Linked DNA regions of Homo sapiens. The protein of the gene in region 1 purifies or fractionates together with the protein of each later gene. This does not show direct contact. Each region holds a gene or a part of one and is shown on either strand. Other genes may lie near its edges.

Evidence for each region.
Region 2: the proteins of HNRNPDL (region 1) and PAIP1 purify together in Homo sapiens (affinity purification with mass spectrometry; 3 studies listed by BioGRID and IntAct, with this or other methods). This does not show direct contact.
Region 3: the proteins of HNRNPDL (region 1) and YARS2 purify together in Homo sapiens (affinity purification with mass spectrometry; 3 studies listed by BioGRID and IntAct, with this or other methods). This does not show direct contact.
Region 4: the proteins of HNRNPDL (region 1) and MALSU1 purify together in Homo sapiens (affinity purification with mass spectrometry; 3 studies listed by BioGRID and IntAct, with this or other methods). This does not show direct contact.

Annotation. Positions count from the first base shown.
Region 1 is NC_000004.12:82,422,049-82,427,469, reverse strand, and holds the end of HNRNPDL (heterogeneous nuclear ribonucleoprotein D-like), read left to right. Parts: coding exon 1-37; intron 38-165; coding exon 166-280; intron 281-836; coding exon 837-1,007; intron 1,008-1,340; coding exon 1,341-1,411; 3' UTR 1,412-1,433; intron 1,434-1,802; exon of another isoform or gene 1,803-1,907; intron 1,908-2,586; 3' UTR 2,587-4,901; downstream 4,902-5,421. UniProt on the Homo sapiens protein: Acts as a transcriptional regulator. Promotes transcription repression. Promotes transcription activation in differentiated myotubes. Binds to double- and single-stranded DNA sequences. Binds to the transcription suppressor CATR sequence of the COX5B promoter.
Region 2 is NC_000005.10:43,526,078-43,533,104, reverse strand, and holds the end of PAIP1 (polyadenylate-binding protein-interacting protein 1), read left to right. Parts: intron 1-3,225; coding exon 3,226-3,319; intron 3,320-5,635; coding exon 5,636-5,729; 3' UTR 5,730-6,838; downstream 6,839-7,027. UniProt on the Homo sapiens protein: Acts as a coactivator in the regulation of translation initiation of poly(A)-containing mRNAs. Its stimulatory activity on translation is mediated via its action on PABPC1. Competes with PAIP2 for binding to PABPC1.
Region 3 is NC_000012.12:32,752,896-32,760,847, reverse strand, and holds the start of YARS2 (tyrosine--tRNA ligase, mitochondrial precursor), read left to right. Parts: upstream 1-4,950; 5' UTR 4,951-4,973; coding exon 4,974-5,752; intron 5,753-6,762; coding exon 6,763-6,930; intron 6,931-7,952. UniProt on the Homo sapiens protein: Catalyzes the attachment of tyrosine to tRNA(Tyr) in a two-step reaction: tyrosine is first activated by ATP to form Tyr-AMP and then transferred to the acceptor end of tRNA(Tyr).
Region 4 is NC_000007.14:23,294,711-23,302,354, reverse strand, and holds the start of MALSU1 (mitochondrial assembly of ribosomal large subunit protein 1), read right to left. Parts: upstream 3,017-7,644; 5' UTR 3,003-3,016; coding exon 2,747-3,002; intron 1,517-2,746; coding exon 1,338-1,516; intron 1-1,337. UniProt on the Homo sapiens protein: Required for normal mitochondrial ribosome function and mitochondrial translation. May play a role in ribosome biogenesis by preventing premature association of the 28S and 39S ribosomal subunits.

The DNA.
Region 1 (5,421 bases):
GTTAGAAAGCAGATACCATCAAATTGGTTCTGGGAAGGTAAAGCCATTTAAGCACTTTAAATGAAAATTTAAATAATTGAAATAATTTCTTGATGTGGAGAAAAATAAAATGATTTAATTTTAGAACTTCGGTAAAAATTATACTTTCATGTTTTTTGTTTATAGTGTGAAATCAAAGTTGCACAACCCAAAGAGGTATATAGGCAGCAACAGCAACAACAAAAAGGTGGAAGAGGTGCTGCAGCTGGTGGACGAGGTGGTACGAGGGGTCGTGGCCGAGGTGAGACTTAATTCTTGAAATATGACTCCGTGGTTTATTTAAGCTGTATACTGCTGAATATGAGTAGTCCTGTACCAAAGCAAAACTTTAAACTTAAAACCATTCCAGCGGAGGGGGGACTGTTCAGCTTAGTGGAGGTTGTGTGTGGTGGTTTTTTGTTGTGAGCTCACTGGTTTCAAAAAACTGTTAAAAGTGTGGCCACTTTGACAATTAGTGTCATCACTGATAGGAAAAGTGTACCATTACATGATACACCGTGGTGTGATAGGTTTTCTTGGGCAGGAGTCCTTGTTTTAAACAGAACAGTGTACCTGTCTTCGGCTTTAATGGAAAATTGAATGATTTTCCATTAAGTTTAGGAAGTTTGATACTGGCACAATTGGACTTTCTGCCTCCTTTTTTATAACAGCTGGAAAAATAGTTTTTCAAGCAGATAGCAATATATATGTCCATTCTGCCCTTTAAGATTTGCAGAGTGAGAGACAAGAACGCATCATTTTATGTTAGAATTGGGGGTCAGAAGTTGTTTCCTAACAATCATTGTGCATTGTTTCAGGTCAGGGCCAAAACTGGAACCAAGGATTTAATAACTATTATGATCAAGGATATGGAAATTACAATAGTGCCTATGGTGGTGATCAAAACTATAGTGGCTATGGCGGATATGATTATACTGGGTATAACTATGGGAACTATGGATATGGACAGGGATATGCAGACTACAGTGGTAAGAATATTTAACTTAATTTTATAAAGCAGTGGTATTAAAATTCATTGTTAACATACAATCCTGTTCTGAAATTGTGTGTATGGGCTTTCCATTAAAGTGTTCGGAGTTAAGTGTTTGAGGCATGTTACAATCATAGGATGATTATACTAACATAGACTGGTGGTTATAAATGAACTAGGATGTATGATTTATGAGTAGCATCTAATGGGTGCTAAAATATCTTAATACTTTTTATTTAGCATGCAAAGATTTGTAGATTTAATAGTTTGTGTTTGTAAAGAAAGTTTTGTAGAAAACTATCTTAATGAGAATTCTGTGTTTTCAAAATAGGCCAACAGAGCACTTATGGCAAGGCATCTCGAGGGGGTGGCAATCACCAAAACAATTACCAGCCATACTAAAGGAGAACATTGGAGAAAACAGGTGTGTATAAGAGTACAGGAAAACAGTAGAAATGTCTAATTTAATTTAAAGATCAATAGACAAATGAAACGTAAAAACAAAATACTATGTAGCCTGTTTTTACTAAATTGTTGATTTTTTAATTGCTTTATGAGCCTGTTTTGCCTAAAGTGTCTATAGATCTTTAACTTTAAAGTCTTATCTCACTTTCTTTAGTATTGCAGAAAAACTTAAGAGTTTTTCTGTTTGCTTTTGTGTACCAGGTGGTCTAGAGGAATAATTAAACATTTTAGAACTATTAACAGGTAAAGTACTGAAATGGGTACAACTTAAGGAAAACAAGAATGTTGTCTTCTAACTCTGACATTATACCTTGTTTGTACCCGCCAGCGGGAACTTCATTGCAGGCCGTGTGTCACCCTGACCACGTCTATCTCTGGGGGTCGCACGTTGCGGGCAGAGCGCAAGGCATACACCAGAAAACGCTGTCCTGTGGTATGGTCTCTTCCAACTTCATGTACCAGCGTAAAGATTAAAGTGGAAAACTTCAGACTTTGGCTTCATTTTTAATCTTTTTGGAGATTAAGTGTCTAAACTTAACTTAAATGGTTTTTTACAGGAGTTAAAGTACATAAATGCCTTTTTACAGCTTAATCATTTTGGTCTTCTGTTTAGTGTTGTATTTCAATTGTGGAGCCTCATTTTAAGTGTTCATTCTTTTAAGATTTAATGCTTGCTTTTTCTTTTTATAGCTAATAGTGAAATCTACAAACCAAAACAAGAACTTTTAAATCTGGGATATAAATTAAAGATCATATGCACAGATCAATTTATGTTCTTGTAATAAACTTATTAGAAATTGGTGTTTGTGATAGCATTTTACTTGGGTTACTAGAGATGCTTCTAGTAGACCTTAATCTAGCATAGTTGAACCTCTGAATATGGGAAGGTTGTATTCCCAGATTCTTTCCTGAATAGATTTGAATTTAATGTCATTTGGGAACTCCAGGGTGAGTTTATTGACTACCCAAACTGTATTTTACCAATAAATATGCATATGATCTTTAATTATTGAAGAAAATAAAGTGAGGACTTAAAACAATTCATGAAAGTGGACCTTTAAAAGCTTGTCAGAGTTGCACAAATCTAACTGGTATTTTGTTTTTGTTTTTAGGAGGAGATGTTAAAGTAACCCATCTTGCAGGACGACATTGAAGATTGGTCTTCTGTTGATCTAAGATGATTATTTTGTAAAAGACTTTCTAGTGTACAAGACACCATTGTGTCCAACTGTATATAGCTGCCAATTAGTTTTCTTTGTTTTTACTTTGTCCTTTGCTATCTGTGTTATGACTCAATGTGGATTTGTTTATACACATTTTATTTGTATCATTTCATGTTAAACCTCAAATAAATGCTTCCTTATGTGATTGCTTTTCTGCGTCAGGTACTACATAGCTCTGTAAAAAATGTAATTTAAAATAAGCAATAATTAAGGCACAGTTGATTTTGTAGAGTATTGGTCCATACAGAGAAACTGTGGTCCTTTATAAATAGCCAGCCAGCGTCACCCTCTTCTCCAATTTGTAGGTGTATTTTATGCTCTTAAGGCTTCATCTTCTCCCTGTAACTGAGATTTCTACCACACCTTTGAACAATGTTCTTTCCCTTCTGGTTATCTGAAGACTGTCCTGAAAGGAAGACATAAGTGTTGTGATTAGTAGAAGCTTTCTAGTAGACCATATTTCTTCTGGATTGTAATAAAATTGTTAGTAGCTCCTTTTACTTTGTTCCTGTCTCTGGAAAGCCATTTTTGAATTGCTGATTACTTTGGCTTTAATCAGTGGTCACCTAGAAAAAGCTTTGTAATCATAACACAATGAGTAATTCTTGATAAAAGTTCAGATACAAAAGGAGCACTGTAAAACTGGTAGGAGCTATGGTTTAAGAGCATTGGAAGTAGTTACAACTCAAGGATTTTGGTAGAAAGGTATGAGTTTGGTCGAAAAATTAAAATAGTGGCAAAATAAGATTTAGTTGTGTTTTCTCAGAGCCGCCACAAGATTGAACAAAATGTTTTCTGTTTGGGCATCCTGAGGAAGTTGTATTAGCTGTTAATGCTCTGTGAGTTTAGAAAAAGTCTTGATAGTAAATCTAGTTTTTGACACAGTGCATGAACTAAGTAGTTAAATATTTACATATTCAGAAAGGAATAGTGGAAAAGGTATCTTGGTTATGACAAAGTCATTACAAATGTGACTAAGTCATTACAAATGTGACTGAGTCATTACAGTGGACCCTCTGGGTGCATTGAAAAGAATCCGTTTTATATCCAGGTTTCAGAGGACCTGGAATAATAAAAAGCTTTGGATTTTGCATTCAGTGTAGTTGGATTTTGGGACCTTGGCCTCAGTGTTATTTACTGGGATTGGCATACGTGTTCACAGGCAGAGTAGTTGATCTCACACAACGGGTGATCTCACAAAACTGGTAAGTTTCTTATGCTCATGAGCCCTCCCTTTTTTTTTTTAATTTGGTGCCTGCAACTTTCTTAACAATGATTCTACTTCCTGGGCTATCACATTATAATGCTCTTGGCCTCTTTTTTGCTGCTGTTTTGCTATTCTTAAACTTAGGCCAAGTACCAATGTTGGCTGTTAGAAGGGATTCTGTTCATTCAACATGCAACTTTAGGGAATGGAAGTAAGTTCATTTTTAAGTTGTGTTGTCAGTAGGTGCGGTGTCTAGGGTAGTGAATCCTGTAAGTTCAAATTTATGATTAGGTGACGAGTTGACATTGAGATTGTCCTTTTCCCTGATCAAAAAATGAATAAAGCCTTTTTAAACAAAATCCAAACTTTTAATCAAGTCTTGATATGTATGACTGAGAAAAAATACACTACATCTAGAGATGATTGAGATGTTTTGCAAAGAATTGAAGGGGGAGTGAGAATTGGTTTTTCTTGCAGGGGCTTTGAACTCTAGATTTGGGCTTTGAACTCTAGATTTAATTCAGATTTCAGGGTCTATCAGTTCACCAACTGATGCAAATTTGAACAGATACTCTAAGGCTAAGTGTCCTAGGTTGGATGAACTGAAGCTACTATCAAGATCTCGTTCCCAAGGATTAATTTAGAACAAAGTAATTGGACAAGTTTATTGGGGAGGGGATAGAAATGAATTCTAAAGTACCTATAACAAATACTCTGTGTATGTTTTTTACATCGTATTTGCCTTTTACATTGTTTAGACCAAATTCTGTGTGATGTTATCCTCGGGAAGAGGATAGAAATTAATTCTAAAGTACCTATAACAAATGCTCGGTTTGTATATGTTTTTATACATCGTATTTGCCTTTTGCATTGTTCAGACCAAATTCTGTGTGATGTTATCCTAACAAAACACCTTAGTAATTTCTTTGGTTAACATGTTAATCTGTAATCTCACTTTTATAAGATGAGGACTATTAAAATGAGATGTCTGTTGGGATGCTAGCGTGGATAAGCAGAGCTTATTCCATTACTCTTCAGTGGATCTTTATTTTCATAATGGCAGAGATCCTCACTAATCTTCACAAAACTTAATACAAGGGCATATCTGAACAATTAAGCTACTTTCCAGTACCAAGATTTGATTTAATGTCAATCAGGATGCTAGGCTGCGTGCTGTAGATCATGCCTGTAATCCCAAGCACTTTGGGAGGCCAAGGCAAGTACATTACTTGAGTCCAGCCTGGGCAACATGGCAAAACCCCGTCTCTACAAAAACTACGAAAATTAGCTCGATGTGATGGTGCACACCTGTAGTCCCAGCTACTTGGGCTGAGGCGGGACGATTGCTTGAACCAGGGAGGTGAAGTGTGCAGTGAGTCATGTTTGCGCCAGTGCACTCCACCCTGGGCGACAAAGTGAGACCCTGTCTCAAAAAATCACAGGATGCTAAACTTCACCAATTAAAAAGTTGACTAAGCTGGCCGCACGCAGTGGCTCATCCCTGTAATCCTAGTACT
Region 2 (7,027 bases), on another chromosome or scaffold:
CAGAGAAGTTTTTTTAGGGCAAGGAAGTAGAATTAAGTTACACGCTATGGGCATCTTAAACTTCACTAAATGTTACTAAATTGTTTTCTAGCATGATTATGCCACTTAATCTTCCCATCAGCAGCACATGAGGGTTCCTGCTCCTCATCTTTGGCAATACTTTTTATTAAACTTAATTTTTGTCCATCAGATTGTATGAAATTCTATCTTGCTGATATTTTATTTCCCTGACAAGTGATATTGAAGTTTTCTTGTTCTTGTTGACCTTTTTGATTTCTTTCTTTGAGAATTGCCTGCTAATACTCTTTGTTCATATTTCTGTTGGATCATTTGTCTGTCTTACTGATCTGTAATTCCTTTTGTAGTCTAGAACAAAGTGATTCTTAGCTGAGGGTTTTGGTTACCTTCTTTCTCTCAGTATTTGCCTGTCTTTGCATTTTGTTTATAATGTCATGTAGAACCTTTGAGTTTTAATGTGAACAAAATTTATCAGTCTTGTTTGTAATTTCTGTGGTTTAAGAAAGTTTCCTTACCATTTCTGTTTTCTTCTAAAAATCATTGTTCTTTTTTATTTTTAGGTCTTTAATCTACCAGTGCAATTTTTATATAGGATGATATCATAGGAATTATCTTTTCCATTGCCTGTTGTCTCAACAATTGGTATTAAGCCATCCTTCCTTTCCTAGTTATAATAAGCCCCCTTTGTTGTATACTATGTAACTCTTCTATCAAATTGTGTCTTATTCCTGTGTTTGTGTGAATCTTTTTTTCTGTTAATCTCTTTCTATGCCAATACTACACTTAAATTATTTTTACCTTACTGTGAATCTTGCTATGTCTGGTAAGACAAATCTTTCCTCTTATTCTTAAAAATTACCTTGATTTATTTTGATTATTTGTTTTTTATTTTTTCTAACCTGTTTAATTGTTTCTAGTACTGTTCGATTTACAGAAATTCAGTTTGGTTGTTCAGTTTCTTTTCAAGGAAAAGAAGTAATGTAGACAGCCAGTAGATCTCAGTTTCTTTTTCTTAAACGTTTTTTAATCTGCTATACTTCATGAAAGTAAAAGAAATCTTACAGTTTTACAGAAAAATCAAGCTAAATTTTGTTTCTGCATTTTGTTCAAATAATCTTGACCTTTTCTCAGAGTTTCAAGTTATTTTTTCTCATCATTCTAAACATGCTTACTTCTGTCTTATATTTTTGTTTTATCTCTTAATTATAACCCTTCTGTTATTTCTGATCATCACACATAAAATTTTTGCCTTAACCGTCTTAAACTTTTATTTGGAAATGATTTCAAACTTACAGAAAAGTTACAAAAGTAAAATTGTACAAGGAATACCTTTTACCCAGGTGTACTTTTTGTTAACAGTTACTTGCTTTATCATTTGTGCTCTTTCCACACACTTTTCTTTTTTTCTCTTTTTTTTTTTTTTTTTTTTTGAGACAGAGTCTCACTCTGTTACCCAGGCTGGGGTGCGGTGATGCAACCTCGGCTTACTGCAACCTCCACCTCCTGAGTTCAAGCAATTCTCCTGCCTCAGCCTCCCAAGTAGCTGGGATTACAGGCCTGTGCCACCACGCCTGGCTAATTTTGTATTTTTTTTTTTTTTTTATTGAGACAGGGTTTCACCATGTTGGTCAGGCTGGTCTTGACTTCCTGACCTTGTCCACACACTTTTTTTTTTTTTCTTAAACCATTTGAAGTTTCATATTAATATGACCCTGATTAAATGCTTCAGTGCTTTGTCTTTTTTCTTTTTTCTTTTTTCATTTTTTTTTTAATGAAAAACACTGTGGCTTGGATTATAGGAACCTCTGTCCAAAATGGTTTATATTTCCTTCTGCCAGGAGCCACAGAGTAGGTATCACTGACTTGGACAAATTTTTTGTTTTCTTGTCATAGGGGTTCTTTATGTGGGTAGTAGGAATTTGAGGTGCAGGCCCATTGTTAAAAATTCTCTGGGGCACCAATTTCTACAAAGTGCTCTGTCCCTATTCCAAACCCAGGCAGACATGACCAAGCTTCCTGCTATCTCGCAGGGAAGATAAAATACCACTGAGATATTTCTTGGTCTTTTTTCCTGATTCACCTTTTGTTTAAGATACCAGACCTTTGAGGGTCCCAGGTTTGTGCAGGTGAGGTTGGGCATGGAGCATGGATTTCATTTTCCTGTTTCACATGGGGCCCAAGACCTTGCTTTCTGGCTTTCTGTGGGTTTTAAAATCCAAGCCCCTTAGTTACCGAGACCAACATCATCTGTCAGCCTCCCAGCTGCAGCAGCTGCAGTTTATATATGGCTTTCAGTTCCTTCTTCATTTGTGACCTGATGACTTGGATTTTCTTTTTTGTGAACTTATCCATACATTTAAAAGAATGCCTGTCTTTTTGTAGCAGGAAGGTTTTACTGTTAAAACGGTCTCTAAATTGTCAAAATTGGGTATCAAAATGTCCCCAGCCCTTGAAGCTGGAGTTACGGTTTTATACAGACTGACACAGTCTTGGAAGAACATGGCTTTTACCCAGTCTAATATAATTGCAAAATTTCCGTTGGCTTCTGTTCATAAGAAACTATAAGGTAACTAGTCTTAATATATACTGATTCATTTTTTTATTCAGAGGTTAGGACTTCATAAAGAAATACTTAACTTAAAAGGTACCCAATAACTCTTCCTAAGACAATTGGCAGATAGGTGTAATATCACCTGTATTACCTTGGAGGACCCAATGAAAGGAAAGTTGGCAGAGCTGAAACGTTTACCAGGTAGCTGCCTTCCCCATCTCTCTGGGAAGAAAGGGAAGGAAAATCCCCCATTGTTAAAACTTTTGGTAGGTTAACTTCATCTGAGGAACAGAGACCAATTGTTGTTACCTGCTTTCTTTACTTCCTTGTGGAGGAGTACAGAGGGAGCTGGAAACCAGTAGTATTTGATTAATATCTTTCCAATGGAAGGACTGTTCTTCCCCAACAGTTATATAACCATTATTTTGTCTGATGGAAAGCAGCAGTAGAGGATATAAACACATTGGCTATGAATGTACATCACCTACAGTGGCTTTGATTTCCAACTTATATCTATAGTACTATATGTAATTACTTTAAGATTTCTGAGCATGCAGGGGGGCAAAAGTCATAATATTAAAAAACATTTAGGGGTGATTGGTCATTTCATGTGATATTTTTTCAGTATTTAGTTTTTCTCCTATGTTGTCTTACAGATTACCAAGAGAAATACCAAGAATTACTTGAAAGAGAGGACTTTTTTCCAGATTATGAAGAAAATGGAACAGATTTATCCGGGGCTGGTGATCCGTAAGTTTTCTTCAGTTACTAACTTCGTGAAATTTCTGTGTCTAATTTATAGGTGGAGATTAGACAAAGTAGCTCATGAAGGAATGGTGTTTGGGGCCAGGCGCAGTGGCTCGTGCCTGTAATCCCAACACTTTGGGAGGCTGAGGAGGGCAGATCACTTGAGGCCAAGAGTTCAAGACCAGCCTGGCCAACATGGCGAAACCCTGTCTCTACTAAAAGTACAAAAATTAGCCAGGATCACAGAATCACAGCTACTCGGGAGGCTGAGGCACAAGAATTGCTTGAACTTGGAAGGCAGAGGTTGCAGTGAGCCGAGATCGTGCCACTGCACTCCAGCTTGGGAGACATAACTAGATTCTGTCTCAAAAAAAAAAAAGGCATTTTGATTTGATGGTGCTATGTGGTAGTGTTTATGTACTAAAAATTTTCAGAAAATTGTATTAACTCACAGACTAGTTCTGAAAAATGTATAGTTGAGGAAAATAACCATTAAAATATAGTATACTTAAGCATAATTATTTTTTTAAAATAGATTCTATTGTATTTAGACTTTAAGAAGCTCTAAAACTTACTGTAAGATCTTGGGCAACTTCTGTTCTGCTTCTCCATCTATAAAATAAGAATAGTAGTACCTGTTGAGTCTTTTTTTTTTTTTTCTTGAGAACTACATGAGAATACATAAATACTTAGCCTTCCGGCACACAGTAGAAGGCTCAAATCTTAGCTATTAAAGGGTAAGTTAAGAGTAAAGAAAACAGATTACTATGTAAAAATGTTTGAACTGATAAGAAGATGTTAATTATAGGACTGTTTATATATCTGTTTCTTCACCTGCCACTCTTTGTAATTAAAGATCCCTTTAAACATATTACTCACTTACCATCAGAGTGCACTACATTTTCTTATAGAAGGACCAGGAAATTGTGAGGTTTAGTACCAATTCTGTTAACAACTTGTGTATATTTGGACAGGCTACTTAGTTTCTTTTCTTCCTAAGTAGGAGATGGGAGGGAATAAATTATATCTTGAACTTATTTTTTTTTTAATATCTCCTGTGTTGTAGATTTTTTTAAAAAAGTGAACCACTTTTATTCTAGTGATATTTTAATTATGTGTCGGTTTGAGATCTAGAAATACAATTGTTGCTGTACTTCTATATTCTAGTTTAATAGAAAACAAAAAAAATACAGGGATTTAAGGACCCAGGCAGAACTAGGAAAGTTCCATCTACTTGGGTATACCGCTGGAAGATAAAGTTGTTCTTGGCATTGAACTTCAGGTTATCCTCTTAAGTTTATTTGGTAAGCATCATATTCTCTTGCCCTAATGAGCTCATGGTTATTTCAACACATGGCCCTGTATTGGAAATGGGGAAGAAACAGAAAAGGACTCATCAGCAGTTGGTAGGGTTGGCAAGATTGTTTTTTCATGCTTGTAGGTGGAAGGGATTGGATTATTGGAGGGGTGGGGAAGATGTTGATAGAATCATGTTATGGAGGAAAAGGGGTAAGACCTGGAGTCAAATTCTGGCCCCGCCACACACTTAAAATTTTACATTGTTCATTTAACCTTCCAGAATCTCTTTATTTTCCATCTCCAAAATGAAGATGATCGTAATGCATATCTTTTTAAGATGGCTATGGACATTCAGTAAGAATGTGTAGATTAAATCCTTAATTGACACTTTAAATCTTTCCCGCCATACTTAACTATGGGAAGCCTTGCTTTCCACCATTTTAAACTACCTAATAGTTGGAAAAAAATCTGGAATAGATGATCTCAAAAGTAGCTTCCTGTGAAAATCTGATTCCAAATAAATGGGAATGTGACTAAATTGTCATCATGGGAATAACCCAGCAGAAATCATAGCAGGAATAGCACTTTCTGTTATTAAGTAGACACAAAATATTAGTGCATCACTAGAGGTGAATGGCATATTTGAAATTATGTTCTATTAATAGTTATATTCTAATTGTTTGTTGGTAAGGTAAATTTATTAATATCGATCTTGAGCCCCAAGTTTATATGTCAAGCCTTTGATTAACTTTCAGGTTATAGAATTTAACTTATGTCTAAAAGTATATATATTCTTTACTATAATTTCACACACAAGGGACTCAGAATCTGTAAAATTTTACTTACCAAATTAAGCATTTGGTTGTCCGAAGACTGCCATTAATGTAATTCTAAAGTTAGGCTTGTGTTCTATTATAAGTCAGTCTAGGAAAGTTGTATTACATTATTTTTTTCATGATTTAGCATCTTACTTTCTGAGTTGAAAAACCTTACACTTATGAATCATCTTTGCTTTTACAGATACTTGGATGATATTGATGATGAGATGGACCCAGAGATAGAAGAAGCTTATGAAAAGTTTTGTTTGGAATCAGAGCGTAAGCGAAAACAGTAAAGTTAAATTTCAGCATATCAGTTTTATAAAGCAGTTTAGGTATGGTGATTTAGCAGAACACAAGAGAGCAAGAAAATGTCACATCTATACCAAATTAAGGATGTTGAGTTATGTTACTAATGTATGCAACTTTAATTTTGTTTAACACTATCTGCCAAAATAAACTTTATTCCCTATAACTTAAAATGTGTATATATATATAATAGTTTATTATGTACAGTTAATTCTACTGTTTTGGCTGCAATAAAATCGATTTTGAAATAAATGAAATGTTGAAAATTTTGCTAGTTGGTTAGATGCTTATCCTTTAAATTCTACTTTTCTTGAGGGGAAAAAGTCTTCTTCTGGAAATACATATTACTGCAAAAATGTAGCATCCTTTTTTAGGTAGGAGTATTATAGCTTTCATTTTAGTTTGACATTTAGTGTCCCAATGAATTGAATTTCAAATATGAATCATAATCTTGAAAATCTTTAGCACTAAAGTCTTGGAATATATCAACAACTGATTTACATATGCAGATGCTATTTGATACCAAGGGCTTTTTAAATGTCATGGGGGGGAAAAACCCAACTTGGTGAACTCCCAGCTAAACAACCAAGACTTCACTGAAGATTTATTCCAATTCTAGAATTGTTCTTTTTTATTTTTATTTTTTCAACTGACTAACTTCATTACCTTAAAGGCTAGAACATTATTCTGCTTTATTTATATGGCTTTCTCACTTTTATTTTGTAGCATGGGTTGCATCGACTTTTTTACTAGAGAATTTTACTAGATATTTGTCATTCAAGTTTTCATCTGCTTTATAATTGATACACCTTGAGGGTCACTTTTCTAATACTTTTACTATAATGTGGTACCACCTCAGCCCTAATAAATAATATTTTTACCTAATGTCAAATCTTTTTCCAGCTAACTAAAAACTGTGTACAAAAGGATTGCTTGTAAATATGCATGTAAATAGTTCTGTTAATAACCCACTGTTTTACATTTGGTACATCTGTGTCTGCTAATACAGTTAGCTTTCTCACTTTTCTGCTTGTTTGTTCAGTCTGAATTAAAATTAGACTTTGAAAATAAAGCTTAAATAGTTGTTTCCTCTAAATTTTTGAAGTAGCATCTGGTATTTTAAATAATTTGCTGTTGAACTTAAATGACATAATTAATTTACTTAATGGTTTGAAATCAAAGAAATCATATTAGAAGATATTTTATTCATTCTCTGAATAAGAATTCAGTAACAAGTCTACCTTGAAAAACTAGCAAATATAAAACATTAAAACTTTAAAATTCC
Region 3 (7,952 bases), on another chromosome or scaffold:
CGTGAGCCACCGCACCCGGCCTGGAAAATGAAAGATTTTTAAACCCATAAATATCTCAAAACATTATCCAGCCATATGGTATGGGACCAGGTGCATAAAGTTAAGGCAATGCTGAGACCTCCAGGTTATTCCACTGGCTACAACAGCAGCCTAAAAGAAAGAAAGAAAGAAACTTGGGGTATCCTTCTCTAAACTCTAATATAGAAAGGAAATGCATATCTAGTAACATGTTTCTTTGTCTAATTATCCTCCTACAATCAGCATCTTAAAATAAGCTAATCTCTTATAAAAAATTTTTGGATGTTAATATGACCATCAGCTCAAAAAGCATTAAAGCCACTTCAATCAAGGGACACAGACTAGGTTTCAAGACACTTAGCTCACATAAATTTCTATAAATTTTAATAGAACTTAATGGTCTTTCCATTTTTTTGTGTGGGAAGGGTAAGCATTATTGATTTTACATTTTAATACATTTTAGGGGCATGATGAACCTGGACAGTAAAAGCATCCTTCCTTCGCCCTACCTAATGCAGAGGAGCTTCCTGAAAGAAATTAGTTTGGAATGAAAGGGGAGCAACTGCCTTGCAGGTAAGGATGGGCAGAGTGGGAGGATCTTTAGGACTTTAGATGTAGGTTTCAAGAAAAACAGCAACATGAAAGTCATGTGTGAGAAGATGTAATTATGAGGCAGATTGAGTTATAAATTATTATACAAAGACAACAAAGACATGAAATCAATCTTTAGAAATGATTCTTCCCAAGTAATAGGAGATAGGAATGTCATGGAAATACTTCAACTGGAAGAAAAGCCATGGAAATACTTCAACTGGAAGAAAAGCCATGGCCTTTCTGCAATAACCTACAATTTCTTTTTCTTTTCTTTCTTTTTTTTTTTTTTGAGATGTTGTCTCACTCTGTTGCCCAGGCTGGAGTGCAGTGGTGCTATGTCGGCTCACTGCAACCTCCGCCTCCCAGGTTTAAGTGATTCTCCTGCCTCAGCCTCCTGAGTAGCTGGGATTACAGACGCCCGCCACCACGTCTGGCTAATTTTTGTATTTTTGGTTGAGACGGGAGTTTCACCATGTTTGTCAGGCTGGTCTCAAACTCCTGACCTCAGGTGATCTGCCCGCCTCAGCCTCCCAAAGTGCTGGGATTACAAGCGTGAGCCACCATGCCCGGCCGTAACCGGGCATGGTTACGTAGGTTTACAATTATAGGTTTACAATTTCTATTTCTTGTTCCTATCCACTCCCTTTTGCATCTGATGTCACCAATAATCTTCTCCAAGGAAAAAAAAACAGAAAACACAAATAAGAATTATATTTTATAGTGATTATAATGATCAGAATTCCTCAGACTTCTTTCTGCTGTCATTTTGCTGTGATGTTCGAGCAGCTCATATTTCAGCCCTAATCAGATCTCTGCTGTAATCTGAATATATATTTAATACAATGCTAGAGATAGAGAAATTTTCAAAGTTAAGTAGAGATCAGTTAAAATACCATTACTGTTTACTCTGTGTCTTTTGAATTCTATTATATTTATATTTGTTTACATTTTGAAAACCAAGCCATTTAAAACAGGGATCCCTTCAAAGAGAACATTTATGTGGCATTTTGTTGCAGGAAAAGGTAACTGTAAAACACATGTGCCTCTAATTCAAGGCCAGTTAACCTCAAGTTATTACAGTTGAGATAAATCATATTTTTAAAAATACTTTTTAACCCTTGTTCACTCACTTTTTAAGCCAATAAAAACAGCAAGAATTAACTTGGTCACTTTTTTGTAACCCAAATGCAAACCATGGGTGCAATCCCATAAAATTTTAGCCACGGATATAATTCCAAAGGTTTGAAAGTCCCATCTTCTTTATTGCTCCTGTCTTTGGGACAAAGCCCAATTTCCCCTATAATACCAACACAAATTATAAAAAGAGAGTAATTGATCTCACTGTATTTTCCAAACTTGTTGCTTGTTACTGTCATTAAGCTACTGTCAAGTCTCATCTAGCACCTCCTGTGACACCACCTTCTTTTTTTTTTTTTTTTTTTGAGACGGAGTTTGGCTTTCGTTGCCCAGGCTGGAGTGCAATGGCATGATCTCGGCTCACTGCAACCTCCACCTCGTGGGTGCAAGCAATGCTCCTGCCTCAGCCTCCCAAGTAGCTGGGATTACAGGCATGCGCCACCATGCCCGGCTAATTTTGTATTTTTATTAGAGATGGGGTTTCTCCATGTTGGTCAGGCTGGTCTCAAACTCCCAACCTCAAGTGATCCGCTCACCTCAGCCTCCCAAAGTGCTGGGATTACAGGCGTGAGCCACCGCACCCGGCCCGACACCACCTTCTATATCAGACTTTGCTGCCTCTTCATGAGATGCAACTAAACTTAAGAGACAAAGCAGAGCTCAAATCTATTTTTAAAAGACTTTATAATAAATTGTAATCCCAGGTAGAAATTTTCTATTTCTCATTATCCACAAAATTCTTCTCCATTAAGCACAGGTCATCAAGTAACCCTGACATCAAGTAACCCTGGCATACTGTTGTAACAAGTAGGATTTTCAAATTACTAACACACCTGTAAAAGCCAGAGAGTTGTGTGTCACCAGAAACACATGTGTGCCCTATGTATTAAGGTACTAAATAGAAAGCACCATTTGCTGTGTGTGTGACAGTACTGATTCCATGTTAGAAGAAAGCTTGCTTACTTGAATACAATTATTACTTTGCTTGATTTTGTAGATCATTCACTAAAATCAGCCTCAGAAAAACAGGATCTTGAACAGAGATAAAAGAAAATACCTAGATCAGCCTCTCTGTGAATGGGCTGACCGACCTAATAAGAATAGGCTGATGGTACCTGCAGAAAGCCACAAAATATTGACCAAGAAAGCAATGATTTACTGCCGACCTGAGACTGCACACGTTTCACAAAAATCTTTTTATCATCCTTTCTCTTAATTGCCCTTAAAAACCAGAGGTGGTCTTTGAACGCTAGCTCACTGCATCCCCCAGGGTTGCTGGTCTCTTGAATAAAGCTAACTTTACTTTCACTACAGCTCTTCTCTTGGGTTTTTGGCTTTCAAGTGACAAGTGGCCCAGATGTGAGTTTCCTTACGTGTGCTCAGGAGAATTTCCTGCCATACCTACTGAAATCTGTCCCTGATCAAAGTGGTGGACCATATGACTGCAGATTGGCCTTGCGAAGTAGCTCATGCCTGTAATCCCAACACTTTGGGAGGCAGAGGTGGGAAGCTTGCTTGAGGCCAGGAGTTTAGGACCACCCTGGGCAATACAGTGAGACCCCCGTCTCTACAAAAACAAAAAATAAAAATTAGCCAGGCATGGTAGTCCACACCTGTAGCTCCAGCTACTTGGGAGGCTGAGGCAGGAAGATCGCTGGAGCCTAGGAGTTCAAGGCTGCAGTGAACCATGATCCTGCCACGGCACTCCAGTGTGGACAACAGAGTGACACTTAAAAAAAAAAAAAACACTGAAGATCAACAGGTTATGATTGCAAATTTTAAGATATTTTGAACACACTATTTTCTTAAGCAGTTGGGAGTATGTTTAATAGCCTATTGAATGAGTATCTCAAAATCCTATTGAAGTTACTATTTGGCAATGAGAAACTAATTCACTGATAATTATACATGCAAAGAAACTAATTATTAAAATAAGTTTTCATTTTGTTAGATAACTTTATAACGTTAAAAAATGGAAAAGTCCTGTAGGGAATGATTTGGAACATGGCCCAGATCCCAGTCACAGGACCAAGGCACTCAATCCCCCAGCTGCTGGGAGTGTTGGTTGCTTATTGCTCACAGCTGAGTCCCTTCCTGCACATCTCACTCTCCAAAAGCCTTAACCCAGCGTTTTGCTTCCTCCCCAGAAACATCCCACATTTAATGAGCAGTCAGTAAGAGGGTCTAAAGGTCTGCCCCCTGGCCTCAATTCAGGATGACTCTGAAAGGAAATCCCGGCTCCAGAGCCCTTACTGGATTGCCTGAGGCCTCTATTACAAATTGTTCACAGTTCAACTTCTTTCTCCCTCCGCCCAACCCGGCCTCCCTCACTCCATTATAGGTGTTGTTCTTAAGAGCACACTCCAATTACCCTCCTGCAAACCAGTCTCCCCCCCAACTCAGAGTCCAGGGAATTCTACCTAAGACGATTTTGAAAGCGGTCCTAGAAATCAGGCTCTAACATGGGATTTTGAAGCTAGATCACCTGCCAGCCAGCTGCCAATAAGAACCTCATCCCTGGTCAGTATTCAGAGCACCTGTCACGCTGCACGATGTGATTACTAACTTGAATCCACTCATGCTAAGCTGTGTCCCAACCTAGTTAACTGTATTTAAAATAAATAAACCACAGGACTTGATGCATGTACTTTATTGCACTGAGTTTTTCTTGCTATACCTTGGACAAGACTGCCACCTCCTGGAAGAGCCGATGAATACTGGGGACGAGGTGCAATTAGGGAATCGGTACTATGAAATTGCTTGCGTCTCAGCAGCAACTCCCTATCTCTCCGCGAACTTAAACCAATTCCTAACCTTTCTCAACCTCTGTGAACAGCTTTTTGCATGGAACCAAGACTTCAAAGAACTTGCGCATCACAATCTTTTTACGTGAAAATGTAAATACAAGTTAGCATTTGTGAAGCGTTATGTGCCAAATGCTTTAATTTTTAAGGCTCACAACAGCCTTATGAGGTAGGAACTATCATAAGCAGATCCACACTGCTGATGGAAAAATTAAGTTTAAGGGAACGTAAGGCGACGGCTCTGAGGCGGAATCGCCACTTGGAGTCGGGACTCAACTGCTGAGAGCGCAAGCTCCGTAACTACGTAACCGTCTCGGGCATGCGCAGAAAAACACTGAAGCACCTTCCCTAGGAGCTGTAAGTAGGTGGGTGTGGTGGGAGCCTCTGCAATCCCAGCATTCCCTTCGTGCCGCTACCAAGATGGCGGCGCCCATCTTGCGGTCCTTTTCCTGGGGCCGGTGGTCTGGTACCCTAAATCTCTCAGTATTGTTGCCCTTGGGGCTGCGTAAGGCCCACTCGGGCGCTCAGGGGTTACTGGCAGCGCAGAAGGCTCGAGGTCTGTTCAAGGACTTCTTCCCGGAGACGGGGACGAAAATAGAGCTCCCAGAGCTCTTCGACCGTGGCACGGCGAGTTTTCCCCAAACCATTTACTGTGGCTTCGACCCCACGGCAGACTCGCTTCATGTGGGTCATCTACTTGCGCTGCTGGGCCTGTTTCATTTGCAGCGAGCGGGCCACAACGTGATCGCGCTGGTGGGAGGCGCCACGGCGCGCCTGGGAGACCCGAGCGGCCGTACCAAGGAACGCGAGGCGCTGGAGACAGAGCGCGTGCGAGCCAACGCGCGAGCTCTGCGCCTAGGGCTTGAGGCCCTGGCGGCTAATCACCAGCAGCTTTTCACTGATGGGCGCTCCTGGGGCAGCTTCACTGTGCTGGACAACTCGGCCTGGTACCAGAAGCAGCACCTGGTGGACTTCCTGGCGGCAGTGGGGGGTCACTTCCGCATGGGGACGCTGCTGAGCCGGCAGAGCGTGCAGCTGCGGCTCAAGAGCCCCGAGGGCATGAGCTTGGCCGAGTTCTTTTACCAGGTGCTCCAGGCCTATGACTTCTATTACCTCTTCCAGCGTTATGGATGCAGGGTCCAGCTGGGCGGATCTGATCAACTAGGCAACATCATGTCCGGATATGAGTTCATCAACAAGTAAGTGCCTTTAAACCTTGGGGAAATCCTGGGACCAAATAATTTACACACTAGTAGCCTGTGATTCACTCTTAGGATTGTAGTTGCTGCCCTTCGTTCCAGCTCTTGTTGGTTTTATCCCCATTAAGGCTCTATAATGGCGTTAATAACACTGGCTAATAAGAATTAAAGGGCTGAATTAAGGGTATTAAGAGTAAACGGTGTATTCTAAAAATTAGCTGGGCGTGGTGATGCACGCCTGTAATCCCAGCTATTCGGGAGGCTGAGGCAGGAGAATCTCTTGAACCCGGGAGGCGAAGGTTTCAGTGAGCCGAGATCGCGCCACTGCACTCCAGCCTGGGGCAACAGAGGGAGACTCCGTCTCAAAAAAAAAAAAAAAAAAAAGGGAAACAGACCACTAGTGAAGATTTGGTCGGTCTGTTTTGCTTCGCCTAAGTCGTCCTCTCTAATTAGAGAAACTGCTTTTGTGTGTTTATACCAGAACGTGACTGGGCCTCCTTGAGTAGCTAGCCTCTGCTTTAGCTCTGCACCCTCCATGAAACTAGTGTTAGTCCTTGGTTGGTATCTCAAAAAGTTTTTTCAACTCCAAATAATTGACAAGTAATGCGGGTCTAATAGCATTTTCTTGAGAGAGGTGAAGGATAGGGCTAGCTCATGTGCAACAGAGCAAAGCACATGTTTAAAAGGCGTTTAGAAGATTTCCTTTAGTGTCTCTTCCTGACACCCCTTCACCCAGTTTTCTCCTTCCCACTCAGCCTTTCAAAATCTCTAGTCCATTGTTATGTAGCACTTCCCCTTGGCCTGCCTAGAACCTGCCTGGAACCACTCATGAGGTTCAGAATGAATAGAGTAAGTACTGTAACAATACATAAGAGGAACAAGAATTCAGATTTAGGAGGTCAAGGAAGTTTTCCTGGAGCAAGTAACCAGAAAGAAATCTGGAAGGTGAACAGTAGAACCTACCACCACTTGTGCTTGAGGCACATAATGAAATTGTTCTTTATGCGTAGGTTGACTGGAGAAGATGTATTTGGAATCACCGTTCCTCTAATTACAAGTACAACTGGAGCAAAGCTGGGAAAGTCTGCTGGCAACGCTGTTTGGCTAAACAGAGATAAGACATCTCCATTTGAATTGTATCAATTCTTTGTCAGGCAACCGGACGATTCAGTGGAAAGGTGAGTTCTGAATAATGGGCTGAGAAAAACTGACACCATAAACTCATGATGTAATTTTAGCCATTGAATCTATGTACATTTTATAGTTTTTTTGTTTTTAACGTAGTTTCTGTCTGTACATAAACCATTACATCATAGAAGACTAATTTTTACTGTGTTCTAAAGTTAAACACTTTGTTGGTTAAAGCAGAAAAACAGTGGGTGGCTAGAAAATGTAGAGCCAACTTTTTGATCTGTATCTAGCAAGTTCTTAGGATTTTATCACCTGCATATTCTAGTTTTTTCACTCCTTTCAACTTAACCTTGACTACCCTTATTTTTCCTTTGTCTCTCTTCTCTCACAAATATGACTTTAAAGATCCTCTTAAGAAATGATTTCTCCTTAAATCAAATTGCCTTAAACTCTTGGAAGAATATGAATTAATGAGAAACAAATATACCTGCAACAAAAAGTGAAAAAAATATTTTGATGCTCTGTAACATCAAAGTAATCTAGGAATAATTCTTTAAGACTTAAAAGGTATATGACTTTCCTGCAAAATATTAAAAGATGCTATTGAGCAAAATAAAGACCTACATAAATGGAGAGTTAGACCATATTCATAGTACAAAAATAATATCAGTTCTTTTTTGTATTTTTTGAAACAGAATCTCACTCCCATTGCCCAGGCTAGAGTGTAGTGACGCAGTCTTGGCTCACTGTAGCCTGAAATTCCCAGGCTCAGGTGCACACCACCATGCCCAGCTAATTTTGTATTTTTTTTTTAGTAATGGTGGAGTTTCACCTTGTTCCCCAGGCTGGTCTCAGACTCCTGGACTCAAGCGATAAACCTGCCTCAGACTCCCAAAGTGCTGGGATTACAGCATGAGCCCCCGCACCCGGCCAAGATACCAGTTCTGGATTTGATCTACATTTAGTACAGTGCCAACCATATCTAAACCGGCTTTTTGTGGAACTTGACAAGCTCATTGTAACACTGACATAGAAATAAAAAGGGCTAAGATTGGCCAAGATGTTTTTG
Region 4 (7,644 bases), on another chromosome or scaffold:
CTAAGACTAAGAAAGGTATCATGGCCCCGTGGAATGGTACCAGAGTCAGCTAGAGGCTTCCAAGTACTTTCTTCCTCATTCTGATTCATATTCAGTGCAACTGGAAAACAATCCCCCTTTCTTTCCTCAACTAGACCTGTAAGGGCAAGGACTACATCTTTTTTGTTCTTACCTTCCCAATACCCCGTACAGTGCTTGGGAACACTGGACATGCTCAAATCTTTGAATGAAACTCCAGGCCAGCACTGTCCAATAGAACGTTTTACAATGATGAAAATGCTTTATGGCTGTCCCATATGGTAGCCATTAGCCACACGTGGCTATTGAGCATTTGAAATATAGCTAATATAACTGCAGAACTGAATTTATATCTTTTTTTTTTTTTTTGAGACAGAGTCTGGCTCTGTCACCAGGCTGGAGTGCAGTGGCACAATCTCAGCTCACTGCAACCTCCGCCTCCCAGGTTCAAGCCATTCTCCTGCCTCAGCCTCCCGAGTAGCTGGAATTACAGGCACACGCCACCATGCCCAGCTAATTTTTGTATTTTTAGTAAAGACGGCATTTCACCATGTTGGCCAGGATGGTCTTGATCTTTTGACCTTGTGATCCACCCACCTTGGCCTTCCAAAGTGCTGGGATTACAGGCTTGAGCCACCACGCCCGGCTGAATTTATATTTTAATTTATAATTAAATAGGCACATGTAGCTAGTGGCTACCGTAATGGATAGTGCCTCTAGAAATCCCTCTGGTTATACTGTCTTCTAGCTTGCCTCAGGTTATAAAATATTATTTTCCGGCCGGGTGAGGTGGCTCATGCCAGTAATCCTAGCACTTTAGGAGGCTGAGGCAGGCGGATCCCCTGAGGTCAGGAGTTTGAGACCAGCCTGACCAACATGGAGAAACCCGTCTCTACTAAAAATACAAAATTATCTGGGCCTGGTGGCGCATGCCTGTAATCCCAGCTACTCAGGAGGATGAGGCAGGAGAATCACTTAAACCCGGGAGGCGGAGGTTGCGGTGAGCAGAGATCGCGCCATTGCACTCCAGCCTGGGCAACAAGAGCAAAACTCCATCTCAATTAGAAAAAAAAAAAAAATCTTCCTTGCGGTCACAAGAGAAAAGATTTTGATATATCCTAACTCAATAGGGCTGGATATTTGCTCCCATATGTTTCACTATCAAAGAACATAAAATGAATTCATGCAAATTCTGAAAATTTGGGCTTCTTCTGTAACTTTGTATGATGGGTTTACCCTCTAAGTGTTGCTCCTTGGCCTGATGCACTGTCACTATTCCACTCAGTTAATGGTCCAAAAGAGAAAAGAAAGCATCCTACCATTTTCACAACGTAGAAGGCCATGGCATGTAAGTGTCGGGTAGAAGTTCCACTAACAATCACAAAGTAATCTGTATATCTCATTTCTGGAGGAACCTGGATCACACAAATGTCTCTTGCATTTTCTTGCCTCAGAAGTGAAACCATCATATCGATGTCAAACTTGGGACCAGTATGATCTGAAATGCACAAATAGTTGTTTGTATCAGGATGGCCAAGCAGATAGACGTGTATGCACCCAGAGATGCCGGCAGCTGACTGTTCCTCCATGAGGGTGTTTAGATCCAAAGTGTTTTTACAGATAGCAGGGTAAAGGCCTCCTGGAAGGTGAACCTGGGCAGTAGTATCATAGCACCGCTCAACTTTTATGGTCAGGGTGCTCAGATTACGCAGAGCCACTATACATCCTTCGCTATTAACCATATGCAAGTAGAACCAGACACCAGTGACAAATGACTTTCTACTAATACTTAAAAGGAGCAATACACCACAATCACAGAAATGCTGTGCAAAGAAAAACAGCACCACAAAATGGGTAGGAGGTGATATCCTGGAGCATATTAAATTGAATCTCAGTCATAACGGGTCACAGAATTGTGAGCTGGAAGGGCTCTTAGGCAGTATCTGGTCCACAACCTTCAGTTGAGAGATGAAGAAACTGAGGCCTAGGAGAATTACTGTGGCCTAAGATCAGTCACTGAAAGAGCTACATTTTTGAGTAATTATTATTTTGAACCTTCCAGTTTTCATATAAAACCACCGGGTTATTAACAACTGTTACCTATGAAAATCTAATTTTTTTTCCCGTAAAGATTTAGATATTCTGATCTTCAGCTTGGAGTATTACAGGCTGTAAATTTAAAAGCTCGCCCAAGTTCTAAAGCCGACTCCAAAGGACCTAGTAGCTAAGCCCACTAAGGCCTCTCCCTCTCATACTCTACATTCTTAGATGTGATCTGTTTACCATTCTTAAGTTTCTAAAAACGTCAGCAATAACTAGAGGATATTAACTTGGACCCATCTCCTACTGGCGCTTCCTACGCACCCCTTCGCACCCAGACCCTGGCTCCTCAGAATCCTCAAGCCCCAACAGTCCCCACAAACCCATTTCCCAGGATCCTAGGAAGAGGGTAAAAGGAAGTGAGGACGGTGAGACTGTGATGCCAAGGGTGGGAGATGGCCGTCCGGGAGGCTGGGATTCTGCAGTTCATCTCTTGCCCTCAATTTCTTCACTGTGAAACGGGAAGGTTGGCGCCAACAACCTTTGAAGTCCCTTCCAGCTCTGGATGTGCAGGAGTTTTGTGACTCCAAGAGAAATGCACATAGAGGGGAACCCAGAGCCACCTTGGCTGGGACCTGACTCCAGACTGCCCGGAGAGGGTCGCCTTCGTTCTTCTCCACGCCCGTACCTGCCGCGTCCGATTCTGGGCGTCCCTCGTTGACCGTCCCCTCCGCCCGCTCCTCCAGCCCAGGCTCGCTGTGCAGGCCGCGGACAAAGTTTGGGGTCTGGCAAGCCCGGCAGAACGCTGCTCCTACGGGAAGCCGCTGCACGGCCAGCAGCCGAAGCCCGGGCTCGGCTCCAACCGCGGACCCCGCCACCGAGGAAACCGCCCTGCGCCACATTAGTGGGGCGAGCAGCCGCGCCACACGGCCGCCCGGCCCCATAGCAGCAGCCTTGCGTCGGCGTCGCGGGTGGGTGGTACTTCATGGAGCCCGGCCGGGAAATTCTACGTCGATGCGTGGGCGGAGTCAAGGCCTGAAGGACGGACCATGGGCGGAGTCTGGAGCCCGTGAAGACTGCAGTGACCCGGAAGAGCTACTTGGGGATTAGGGCGTGCGGGAATAAAGAACTAGTGTTGCTTGCCCACCTTGCTTTGCTTTGTGTCGCAGTAGCGCATTACGTTGTCACTTTTTTTTTGGACTCTGTCCACTAATGTGAGGCTCATGAAGGCAATAATTTTTGTTTCATTTTTAACTCTTCTCTCCACAGCACCTAAAACAGTTCCTGGTACTGAATGTCCAGAAGTTGCTGTTAATCTGATTAGGCTGGGATTAGGACATATAATCTACCCTCTCTCATTACCAGAAAATATTCAAGATTCCCTTGCAAATTTGAAATTGCGCGAGGAAAATCTGTTATCCTGGGCTAGAGTGGGGTGGGAGGCAGAGGTGTAAAGGACCATTTGGAAACCGTTCTTAGGTCAGCCCATCATCTACACTCCCTGTATGGAGGAGTTTACGCCCAGGGGCGGTACTGTGGGGACCAGCTCTGTAAGAATAAGGAATTCTGAGGTGCCAGCTGCGGTATTAAGTCACAGGACTTGAGAACTGCGATAGATTCCTGGCACGGGTGGGGGGGTGGGGGGTTTTGGGGGCGTGGGACGCCGCAGGGAAGCAACTTGCCCAGGTCATACACTTACTGACTGCGTCAGAATCAGAAGCCAGTTTCTGGCTTCTGAACTCCAGGCCTGCTAACTGCTGAAAGGAAGGCTTCATAGAGAGCAAATATTTCAAATGCCTGAAACAGTGCCAGACACATAGCAGGCACTCCAAAAATGTTTGCTACATTATTTTAAATAATTCCAAGCACTAATTTTGGGAAGTTTTTTAAAAATAGAGAAATTAAGCATTTGTGTATATCACACCAGATATGTACAACCACTTCAAGTTATTTTTGAAAAGAAGAAAAACATTACAGATTAAGTTTCCTCTGTCCAATTTTAGCCCCATCCTCAATTCCATTTTTCCACAGGCATGAACTTGGCTTTTCTCCCAGCTTCTGGCATCCATTCCGTGTTCCCACCCTTCTCTGAACATCCCAGACCTGCTTTACCACCTGTATTTGCCAGCTCATTTAATGGGTCATTATCCCTTCAAAACTCCCAAACCCTAGACTTCATTCAGTCCAGGATCTTCATACAACAAACGAATCTGTTGTCAAAATCCTGCTTATGTGACCTCCAAAATGTTTCTGTGAGTTCAGCTTCTTGTCTTCATTTCCACTGTTTCTTCCTTAGTCCACACCCTCATTAGTTCTTGCCTAATTACAGAGACTGCCTCCTACCTGGCTTTCCTGTCTCCAGTCTGTTTCTACTCTTTTCATCCTCCATGCTGCCCTTCTATCAACTACAATCATTTTCGCTTTATCTGCTTTTTGCTGTTTTTCAAACTCACCATACCCTTTTTTATTTTTATTTTTTAAAGAGATGGGGTCTTACTCTTGTCACCCAGACTGGAGTACAGTCACACAATCATAGCTAACTACATCCTCAAACTCCTGGGCTCAAGCGGTGCTCCTGCCTTAGCCTCCCAATTAGCTAGGACTACAGGCATGTGGAACCATGGCCAGCTAATTTTTGTTTTTAATTTTTTTAAAGACAGGATCTCACTATGTTGCCCAGGCTGGTTTCAAACTCCTGGCCTTAAGCAATCTACCCCACTGTAGCTGTGAGTATAGGCATAAGCCACCATGCCTGGCAACCTCACCATATCCTTTCAATGCCAAGCTTTGCATATACTTTTTTTTTGAGATGGAGTCTCGCTCTGTCACCCAGACTGGAGTGCAGTGGCACCATCTCGGTTCACCACAACCTTTGCCTCCAGGGTTCAAGCAATTCTCCTGCCTCGGCCTCCCAAATAGCTGGGATTACAGGCACGTGCCACCACCCCCAGCTAATTTTTGTATTTTTAGTAGAGACGGGGTTTCACCATGTTGGCCAGGCTGGTCTCAAACTCCTGACCTCAAGTGATCCACCCGCCTCAGCCTCCCAAAGTGTTGGGATTACGGGTGTGAGCCACCGTGCTTGGCCACTACTCTTTTTAGAGCACCCTTTTCCCATTTTTTCATATGACAAACTCAGACTCACTCTGTAAGACATACCTTAAGCATTAAGATATCTCCCCCTACTCTCTCAGATGGCCCCTCAGAAACCCCTCATCCCTTTGTTCATAAATGTCTTTAACATTTATGTTTGACTGCATGATACCCCACTAGAAAAGACTTAGATTTAATTCCACCTCTTCTGTTTATTAGCAGTGTACTATTGAAGTTCTTAATCTGAGCCTCAGTTTCCTCATCTGTAAAATGAGGGAATGATACCTTCTTCACAGAGTCTCGAAAAATTGGATAAAATATGCAGCACAAATTATATACCATAGTGCTTGGCATGTAGTAATCATATGGAAATTAGTATCTGTCTACAAATTGACCTCATGGAGAGGAAATGGCTTGAACCCAGTCATTATGATAAAGCCCATCAGAAAAAGACAACCAGGAACACGTGTGGTCAAAGTTTTTTTTTTTCCTGAGACGGAGTCTCGCTCTGTCACGCAGGCTGGAGTGCAGTGGTGCAATCTCAGCTCACTGCAACCTCCGCCTCCCGGGTTCAAGCAATTCTTCTGTCTCAGCCTCCTGAGTAGCTAAGATTATAGGCGTGCACCACCACGCCTGGCTAATTTTTTTGTATGTTTAATAGAGACGGGGTTTCGCCACGTTGGCCAGGCTAGGCTCGAACTCCTGACCTTGTGATCCTCCCATCTTGGCCTCCCAAAGTGCTGGGATTACAGGTGTGAGCCACCGCACCTGGCCCAAAGTTAGTTTTATTAACTCGCTGTAGCAAGGGAGACTGCATGCTATGGAGGACAGAGGAGCAGCTCAGGAAGAGGGACTAGAAGGGGCTTTGTTTAGGGCTCGTGCTTATGCTCAGTGAGTCTAAGGAGAGATCAGAGGAAGTGGTGTCAGCTGTGGACTGGGTGCTGTCCTGAAGCAAGGGAAGTTTAGGAATTTTTCTCAGTAATCTTTGTTCAGGAGACAGGAGAATGTTCACAGGGGCTGGAGATGTTATTGGTCAGTCACTCACAAGAGTCGTGTGGTCTGGGGAGAATCATGTCCTATTAAAAACATTATTTTAGGCTTCACTAGGAACATCACATTCTGATTAGCAGCAGGGCTGAGAAACAGACTCAGGGTCCTTGTTCCTTAGAACTATAAAAGTTAAGATAAATGTGGAGTGCTGGCCCTTGGGGAGGATTGATGCTGAAGCTGTGTCTTTGTGTGGAATGATGTGAAATGACCCCCATGCGGAGTCTTCAGGCAAGACCGGGATGTTCCATTCTCACTGAAATGATTCCAAACAACAGTTTCTCATCATCTGTGATTTCAGAGACAAGGTTTGCCAGCACTATGCATGTCCTTAATGTTAATTACCAAAATCCATTTTTACAGGTCATATTTCCTGAGGAAAATTAGAGAGGTTCTCAGAAATGCAAAATGCCCCTCTTTCCCCCAAAACTGCCATCTACTCATGGGCTTGGACATTGTTTTCAGACATTGGTTGCTTAGTAAAGGCAGAATCAGAAGTGGGGGTGGTTTGATAATCACTACCTTTGGGGTACTGAGCCAGAGGATTGAAGCCAAAAGCAACTTCCTGAGTCAGGAATTATAAATTAACTACAGTCCATTAGTACAAGGACTTCCCTATTACAGACCCTAATTACATCCCTGGTGTGGTAATTTGGGAGCCTCCTGTTTGCTGTGTTAGCAGCAGAGCCAAAAGGTTCCCAAATTTGTGTCCTGGGGCTTCATGGGAAGGTGAGAAGCTGCAGTCACAAACACTTTCTCTGCAGCTAGCCTCAGGGGCTGGGGAGAAGGTAGGGGCCTACTTTGGGAGATGACACCACACAGACCTCAGGATCTTGCTTCAGAGAAATACAGAGCAGGCTGGGCCAAAGGCCCAAGGGCTAAACTAGGGAGAGATTGCGCAAGCTTCCTGATGTGCCCATACTGGACCATAGGGACCTTAACATCACACATTACGGGACTGGCACATAGTGTATAAATGACTACGTTTATATAATTTTGATACTGGGAAGCTTATCACTCTGACCTCTGCTTACTCAATGCATGAATTTATTATGCATCTGTGTTTCTTAAGCTGTGGACCATGAACCCCCTTTTGACAGCAGAGGACCCTCAAATCCACATGTGCATCAAACATTGTCTTTGGGCCAAATAAATGTGTCCCTCACAGCAAATAGGTGTAGATGGTATTGCAATTCAATAAAAATTTAAAAGTGTGGCTTTGTTTCAAGTAGCTCTTTGTCATGCATGTACTGAATGATTTTTTTTTTTTTTTGAGACAGGATCTCTTTGTCACCCAGGCTGGAGGGCAGTGACATGATCATAGCTCACTTAACTTTGAACTCCTGGGCTCAAGCAATTCTCTTGCCTCAGCCTCCTGAGCAGCTGGGACTACAGGCATATGCCACCATGCCTGGCTAATTTTTAACTTTTTGTAGAGACACAGCC